2 separate regions of the Homo sapiens genome follow, and region 1 is reported to be linked to region 2. The links are microRNA targets in miRTarBase. Many come from high-throughput screens and were not tested one by one. Region 2 holds a microRNA gene; the other region holds the end of a gene's coding sequence.
The links. The annotated mature microRNA hsa-miR-7159-5p reads UUCAACAAGGGUGUAGGAUGG and lies in region 2 at 2,162-2,182, opposite strand. An mRNA with a match to its seed (bases 2 to 7 or 8) in the 3' UTR can be bound and repressed. Matches are read on the target gene's strand: a 7mer-m8 pairs with bases 2 to 8, a 7mer-A1 pairs with bases 2 to 7 and ends in A, and an 8mer does both.

Region 1: the mRNA of TRIM17 is a reported target of hsa-miR-7159-5p. The part of its 3' UTR that is shown has no 7-base or 8-base seed match.

Annotation. Positions count from the first base shown.
Region 1 is chr1:228,404,824-228,408,823 of GRCh38, reverse strand. It overlaps TRIM17 (tripartite motif containing 17), which reads left to right. Exons shown (of 7, transcript NM_016102.4): 7 at 73-889. The coding sequence ends at 623. TRIM11 (tripartite motif containing 11) reads left to right here and starts at 1,989. Exons shown (of 6, transcript NM_145214.3): 1 at 1,989-2,670. The coding sequence starts at 2,263. RefSeq lists enhancers at 427-1,086, 1,278-1,327 and silencers at 1,678-1,747, 1,888-1,977, 2,038-2,277.
Region 2 is chr6:33,897,317-33,901,316 of GRCh38, reverse strand. It overlaps MIR7159 (microRNA 7159), which reads right to left and starts at 2,182; the gene lies at 2,117-2,182. All of the region lies in intron 1 of LOC105375026 (a long non-coding RNA gene), which reads right to left.

The DNA.
Region 1 (4,000 bases), not on the chromosome of region 2:
CGGGGACTCCCACCTTTGACCCTGAATGCCCCACACCTCTCCCCATCTCTCCACCACCACGCCCATCTACAGAGGATGTGGTGCCTGATGCCACCTCCGCGTACCCCTACCTCCTCCTGTATGAGAGCCGCCAGAGGCGCTACCTCGGCTCTTCGCCGGAGGGCAGTGGGTTCTGCAGCAAGGACCGATTTGTGGCTTACCCCTGTGCTGTGGGCCAGACGGCCTTCTCCTCTGGGAGGCACTACTGGGAGGTGGGCATGAACATCACCGGGGACGCGTTGTGGGCCCTGGGTGTGTGCAGGGACAACGTGAGCCGGAAAGACAGGGTCCCCAAGTGCCCCGAAAACGGCTTCTGGGTGGTGCAGCTGTCCAAGGGGACCAAGTACTTATCCACCTTCTCTGCCCTAACCCCGGTCATGCTGATGGAGCCTCCCAGCCACATGGGCATCTTCCTGGACTTCGAAGCCGGGGAAGTGTCCTTCTACAGTGTAAGCGATGGGTCCCACCTGCACACCTACTCCCAGGCCACCTTCCCAGGCCCCCTGCAGCCTTTCTTCTGCCTGGGGGCTCCGAAGTCTGGTCAGATGGTCATCTCCACAGTGACCATGTGGGTGAAAGGATAGACACAGACCGGGGGACTCGGGCACTGCTCCTGGCTCTGCAGAAGGTGTGGGCCTTCTGCTTACTGCAGGCCACCTGCCAGGGTTCTCTGGCATCACGCTGGCAGCCATTAGACACACAGGGGGGTTTCTCAAATTCTAAATATAATTGTGATTAGAACTGTCAAACATTAAGAGGGTATACTGACAGATGCTTCCTAGAGGAAACTTTTGAAAGCCCCTGCGTTCTGAGTGGACCGATTTCTAAATCCATACCTACACACCAGGAACAGCGTGGTCACGTTTTTTTTAGCCATGCCCCCACCCCCACTTTGGAATGACAGGAATCTGTGGCTCCCAGCCCCCCCAGGGGTTTAGGTTACTCTGTCAAAGAAGTAGAAATATCCTATGGTGGGGAGGAGCGGGGGTGGTTGCTGTGTCAGGGATGGTCCCAGGCTGCCCATAGAAATGTCCTATGCATCCTATTGGGTCCTTCGATGGGGGAAAATGGGAAAGGCTGAACCCGTAAAAAGCCTCAGAGCTGCCCACCCCCATCCCGTTCGATCCCCAAAGTTGCACGAGCAGGGGCAAAATCCCAAAGAGATTAGGATTTATGTAGGGGCCTCTTTTCCACAGCGCCCTTACCTTTTCCAAGGAACCCCCCACCCACCCCTGCAGGGTCAAGCACTTTAACAGCCTGTGTCAGTCACTAGCAAGGCAGAATTCCAGAGTAAGCGTACTCCTACCTCGACAAAGCCGGAGTGTCTGCGCGAGGGGCTGCCTGGAACAGCATGCCCCTTTGGAGTGGTTCCCGCAGAAAGAATGTGGGCCTCCTGGAGAGCTGGTCCTGGAGGGATGCCCCCGTCCCATCCCCCAACTCCAATCATTCTGACCTTGGCCTGCCAAGGCTGTGAGGGCCGGGCCTTCCGAGGATACCCGCCCTGGGAAGCACGGGCTGAGGGGGTGAGGACGCACTAGGGGTATGGCGAAGGGCTCCAATGCCCCAGGCTGCGGACTCCCTTAGTCCTTGCAGTTGCTTCCGTGTGCCCCGCCCTGAGTCCCCATCCCTCCTTGCCCTGCCCCCTGCTCCATCCCTCCCCTGCGCCCCGCCCCCTGTCCCCATCCCTCCCCTGCGCCCCGCCCCCTGTCCCCATCCCTCCCCTGCGCCTGAGTCCTCCCCAGGGCAGGGGTAAAAGACCTGGCCACAAGAACCGGAGCGGTGGTGACGCCAGGTCAGCAAGTGAAAGCTCTCCAATTCCGTCCCGCCCGCGGGCCGCGTGACTGGCAGCGGCCAATCGGAGGCAAAAGCGGGTTGTTCCAAAAAAAAAAAAAAAAAAAAAAAAAAAAAAAAAAAAACACACAAAACCCACCCAGTCGCTTCCTGCTTCCGCCTCGGCTCCTCTTCCTGCCGGCATCCGGGATCCCTACGTCCCGCGTCCCCCGAGCGCTCGGAGCCTACGCGCCCAGCGCTACCGAAACCCAGAGTCCTGCGCCCTGGAGTCCCCGCGCCCCGGAGCCCGAGCACCCGGGAGTCCCGAGCCTCGCGCCCCGGAGTGCCCGAGCCTGCGCCGCCGCACCCGGATACCCCGCGTCCCCGCGAGCTGCCGAGGCCGCCCGCCGCCGCCCCGCGGACAGTACCGCCTTCCTCCCCTCTGTCCGCGCCATGGCCGCCCCCGACCTGTCCACCAACCTCCAGGAGGAGGCCACCTGCGCCATCTGCCTCGACTACTTCACGGATCCGGTGATGACCGACTGCGGCCACAACTTCTGCCGCGAGTGCATCCGGCGCTGCTGGGGCCAGCCCGAGGGCCCGTACGCGTGCCCCGAGTGCCGCGAGCTGTCCCCGCAGAGGAACCTGCGGCCCAACCGCCCGCTTGCTAAGATGGCCGAGATGGCGCGGCGCCTGCACCCGCCGTCGCCGGTCCCGCAGGGCGTGTGCCCCGCGCACCGCGAGCCACTGGCCGCCTTCTGTGGCGACGAGCTGCGCCTCCTGTGTGCGGCCTGCGAGCGCTCTGGGGAGCACTGGGCGCACCGCGTGCGGCCGCTGCAGGACGCGGCCGAAGACCTCAAGGTGCTCCTGGGCGGGGGTGGCGTGCAGGGGCGTCGGGGAGCCGGGGACTGGGGAGGCCTGGGCGGGTGGGAGGTTTGGGGGACTGCTCCGGGAGTAATCTGTCTCTGTCTAGGGCGGGGAGCTCAGGATGCAGCCTGCTGTGGGCCTGTGAGGGGGGTGTCGCGCAGGGTGGCTGTGGGGGCTCATGACACAGCCTGTTTCAACCAGGCCCCTTGAGGCTGGGACCATGGCCGCCAATGAGACCCTGCTCTCGGGGGTGAGGGGCGTACCTCTCATAGATAGAGGCTAAGAGAGGAAGGTGGAAGGTGGAAGGTGGTGGAGTGGGGGCAAGGAAAATGTGGCCATACCCTGGCCAGCAAGGAGCTGGAATCAGAGGAAAGTGGGAGAACCTCAGAGGTGGCCGATCCTAGATGGACTCCCTGCAGGGACTGTGTTAGCAGGTCAGTACTTAAGTCCTGGGAAAGCCCCAGACTGGGCAGGATGAGGGGGACACAGTCGTTTCCTCTCTAACCTCCCCTCCAGGGCTGCCCTGCATTTCTGGGTGGGGTACTGGGAGCCATCTCTGCCATCTGAGATGCCAGGGCTCAGCCTGCCTTTTCTCCCCTTGTCTTGCTGCTTAAAACCCAAATAAAACCCGAGCTGAAGGGCCTGGGGCACACGTTCCCTGGCCTGCGCTCCCTCCCGCTGTCCTCTTTCCTCGCTGACCTGCTGCAGGTGTGCTCCTGGGAGCCTACGTGTGGGGCAGATGGCAGCATCTTTGGAGCTTTCTTGATTGCACTTTGTGTGTTGCATCATGGTCACTTGTGTGTGCCAGATGAGCAGTTAAGGCAGTGTTAGAATCAGTACTGAGCTTGATCTGTCCCTATCACAGAGCAAACTTCTGGGATACTAGAATAAATCTGAATCTGTCCCCTTCTGCTTTGGATTTTAGCAGAAAGGTGGTTTAGAGCCATATCCGTGGGCTTGTTCAGACACAGATTCATTTGGGTTTTCTTTTCTTTGCCCATGCAGGAATGTCTACACCTGAAACATGTTAGCCCAGCAGAATTACCCTTGTGACACCAATTACCCCAATGGGTGCAGAGAGTGCCCAATAGCTCTATAGAGTTGACTCGATATAGTTTCATGGGATAGCACTTAACCCTTTCTTTTGCAGGTGAAGAAAAAAATTTCCCTCTACCCTGTTAGGTTCAGTGGCTCAGGGCTGCAAATTAAACTGGCACAAGACAAATTAACAGGAAAAAAAATCATACAATTTGATTAATATTTTAAGTTTCACATGCACAAGAACTTCATAGAAAAGCGTATTTCAGCAAAGGTTTGTGAATTG
Region 2 (4,000 bases):
ATTCTGCAGCTTGCTTCATTTCAAGCCATGTACCAACATGGTTCCACATCAGATCAGTGTACATGCCCAGCCACACTCTGTGAGACTGCACTGCACCCCATTCTGTGGATGTGCCATGAGTGTAAGGGCTCCCCATTTAGCAGGCACTCAGGTTGTTCCCCGTGTTTTTAAACACTGCCAGGCTGCCACAACTATCCCTTTATGCTTATCCTCATGGCGTTCTGTATTATTTCTGTTGGAGAGAGTCTCAAAAATGGCTCTGCTTTTTATTTCTATTTAAATATTTTTTGTTAGATGGCCCTCCAGAAAGGCTGCACCAGCTTTAAAACCCTCGGTTCCCTTTTCTTTATGCTGGGTGTGCACTTTACCTCAGCCCTCGAGGGTGCCTCTGCCCACACCTGGGCCAGCACCCAATAACGTTTCCCTCGTGGCATCTGCAGCAACAGCCCTGCCCGCCCCTTCCAACTCTGCCCCCAGCCCCCAGCAATGGCACAGACATTTCTCGTTACGTTACTCCTTTGGTCTTCTTCTCGAACCTCCTCTCACTCCCCCTCCCCCGATACTGGGCCATCTTCCTCTGCCAGCCCTTCACTGTTGTTCTGTAAGTTTCTCTGGGTTTCCTCCCCCGTCACCTTTATGCCCATGACAGTCAGACGGGCCTCCCACTCCCTCTGCGCCTCATCCCTCTTCTCTCCCTGGGCCACCTCGCCTCGTGGTACAGGGCAGCCAAGTCATCCAAACCAACTGCCCAATGAACGAGGGCTACACAGGTGAGTGTGCGGAAAAGGAGAGAACTCACATCGACCCTGGCATTCATGCATTCTACAAATATTTATTGAGTACCTATTAAGTGCCAGAGGCCGGGAAAGATGTTCAGCTCAATTAGGTGAGGTCTGTCTTGGAGGCGAGGGAGACATTAATCAAATAATCACACAAATCAATGTTGGGTTTCAAATTGTGCTGGGTGCTATGAGGGAGTGGCTCACAGACATGTCCCTGGCAGCTGCCTTGCCTGAAGGAAACGTGTTATCCAGGGAATGGCATTGGAACTGAGACCTGAACAGAGGGCAGGGTTTGATCAGATGAAGCAGACGATGAAGAGCTCTCCATGTTGCTACAGCAGGCCTGGGCCAGAGGGCCGTGAGGCACTTCATAGAGGCCTTGAGAAGAGGTCTGGGAAGCCCGGGGTAGGACGGTAGGCGGTGGGGGAGAGGAACGTGTATTTATGAGACACGTGCTCTTGGCCCTGCCTGCATTTCTAGCCAATCTAGAAATAACAACAGGAAAGCACTCACTCCCGGCACTGGCCCCTCTGAGACCAGGAGACCTTGGGTTCAGCATGCACTGATGGAGAAGAAGCAGGATGCAGAGGCCTTTACCCCCTCTCTCACTGATTACATGGTTATAGCCCTACACTCTGCCTTTGCAGATGCCATGCTTACCCTTAGCTGGACACTCAGATGCCTCCTACCAGTAACTGGAGAGAGAAAGTAAGCCTCTGGGTCGCAGCAAGGGGGACAGGCAAGGGTCAGGACAGTTTGGCTTTTGACCAATCCACACTTGCCTAGCTAAGCCCACCTCTGGCTTCCAGAGGCATGCCCCCACCATGTCCGGGAATGTGTGTCAGGCAATGCTTTCTTGCTGGATGCATGGGGAAGGGTTCTAGTTTCTCATTCACTTCATGTGTTCTGCTCTTGGAGTAAGGGCACCTCTCAATAGAGGCTAAGAAATGCTGATCCCTGTGGATAAGAGAGCCACTTAACTTGGCCATCGGCCACTGAGCCCATCATCCATCTAAAGTCTCTCCAAATACTGGTCAGATGGAGGTTTCCACAGCTGCCATTCTAAATGACAGGACATGTGACCGAGTCTGGAGCCCCATCCCAGCTACCCCTCAGCCTTCCTTCCAGCCAAGGACAACCCACTCTGCCCAGAGAGGCCACATTGCCCTCCAGCCAAGGGACCCCCTCCTTTCCGCCCTAGGAAAGAAGTTCTGTCCTCTATCCCCAAGGAGACTGCATATCCTTCACCACCTCCACTGAAGTTTCTAATGTTAGATGGTCCTTCTCTTCACAGCACCTGCCCAAGTCTGTGTTTAGATGCCTCGAGCCTGATCCTTCCAACTAACATAGAAATGCCAAGGCCCGGCATACTTCCCTGGCCATCCTACACCCTTGTTGAAAGCCGGAGTCTCATGGACTTAAAAGTTCTTCAAAAATGAAGCCAGCTAGCTTCTACCCCCATGCCACAGCAGCCCTGCACAGATTAGTAAGCCCACTGTGACTCTGCTTAGTCCACCCTCCTGCCCATCCGCACTGATCACCAACCACTAAGCCCTGCCTGCGGGAGTCCAAGGAACTCACTAGGTCTCTGACTCAACCTCTAGTGAAGAGGGGGTTTCCCAGGAGTGAAGTACCTATGAGGGTTACTGCCCCTTCTTTCTGGATTTTGGCTCTGAAAGTGTGGAATAAGAGAGTGCACAGTGACTCTTCCACTTCTCAATCCAAGAGAACTCCATACAGTTCTGTTCTATTCCAATGACCTCTGATCAGAAGGAAAATGGCTATTGCAATAACATAGCACTGAGAGATTCTGAAAGAATCAAGCCAGGCCCTTTTGGAGATCAAAGCTTTCAGGAATTAATGCTCAGGTAATTCACGGAGAAAATGATGTGTGGGTAATTTCTGGAATCTTTTCACCTGGGCAGACACATGACTCCCACCAGAGCTCTCCCACCTGTTGCTTTGGGTGCCAGCCAGAAAGCATTGTCCCCGCCCGGGCTGGATTCTAGCCTTGGGTCAAACGGGCTACAGTGCCAATGAAGATGGTACTCAGCGACCTTGGTTCACCAGCAGAACCTGAGAAACCCTCTTCTACCTGAAAGGAGGAGCAGCCCCTTGAGGGCAGCACCTGCCAGTGAGTGTGGAGCCAGGCCACCCTGTCCTTACAAAACTCTTGCAATGTTTGATAGAGAGTAGACATCCGAGGGTATAAAGTACTTTTCCTGTGCATCTTCTCAATTCCCAGGTAGTCTCAGTGAGCTCGAACTATTCACCCAGAAAAGACAGTATGAACTAGCTTTACCCTGGGCCCCTGACCAGGCCTGGTGGTGGCAGCTCCAACTCCATGCAGACAGGAGCTGGGCTGCCCTACCTGGAGAAGCTAGCCACCTACTCTGCCCAGGAATGTCTTGGGTGTCCCCAGAAGGCCTGCTCCTTCCAAAGTTGAAAGCAATGGTGATCTGCTGAAGACACTGGAACTCCGCAGGAAACTGCTGAGCAAAGGAGGCAAGGAAAAGGATATTCTTGGAATATCCAGAAAACCAAGTCGGGAGGGAGATGCTTAAGGGAAGAGAAGGGGCTATCTCCTAGGGAGTGGTCTAGAATCTTCCCATCACTGACACCCAACTTCTGCCCATTATCGGAGGTGCATCTGTCCCTTGGTGAGGGACAGGTAAGGAGGACTCCAGCAGAGCCTCAGCAAACAAGAGCTGTCTGCCTGCTGCAGGGGAGGGTGTATGTGTGACAGGGAGGGTTGGAGAAGGGGCTGCCTTCCACCACTTGTAGTCCTAGGAATCCATGGACACCCTTATTGTGGCTGCGGGCCAGTGTTCCAGGGGCCCTTGTCCTGGGGTGGGAGGAAGGAGCTGTGAAGATGCCAGCCTACTAGGGACAGGGGTAGGACCAGGTGTGCAGCCTGGAACAAGGGACAGAGGGAGGAAGCAGCACCATCAGCACTTTTTCCTTAACACCTGGGTGTGGGTTTGGGTGTGCATTTCTTAGGCAAAGAGGCATCTCAGTGCATGTTTTAAGCTGCCATCTCCTCCTTTTAAGCCTCCTAGTTAATATCTGCTATGTGAATTATTTACTGGGAACAGATGTTAGAGTTTAAAGAGCACTGAGCAGAGATCTTTGGCTAATCAATTTATTTTAACAGGTTTAAGTCTTTACTACACACCCAATTGGAGATTTCCCTGCCACTGGAAGCCTGTGCTCCTACA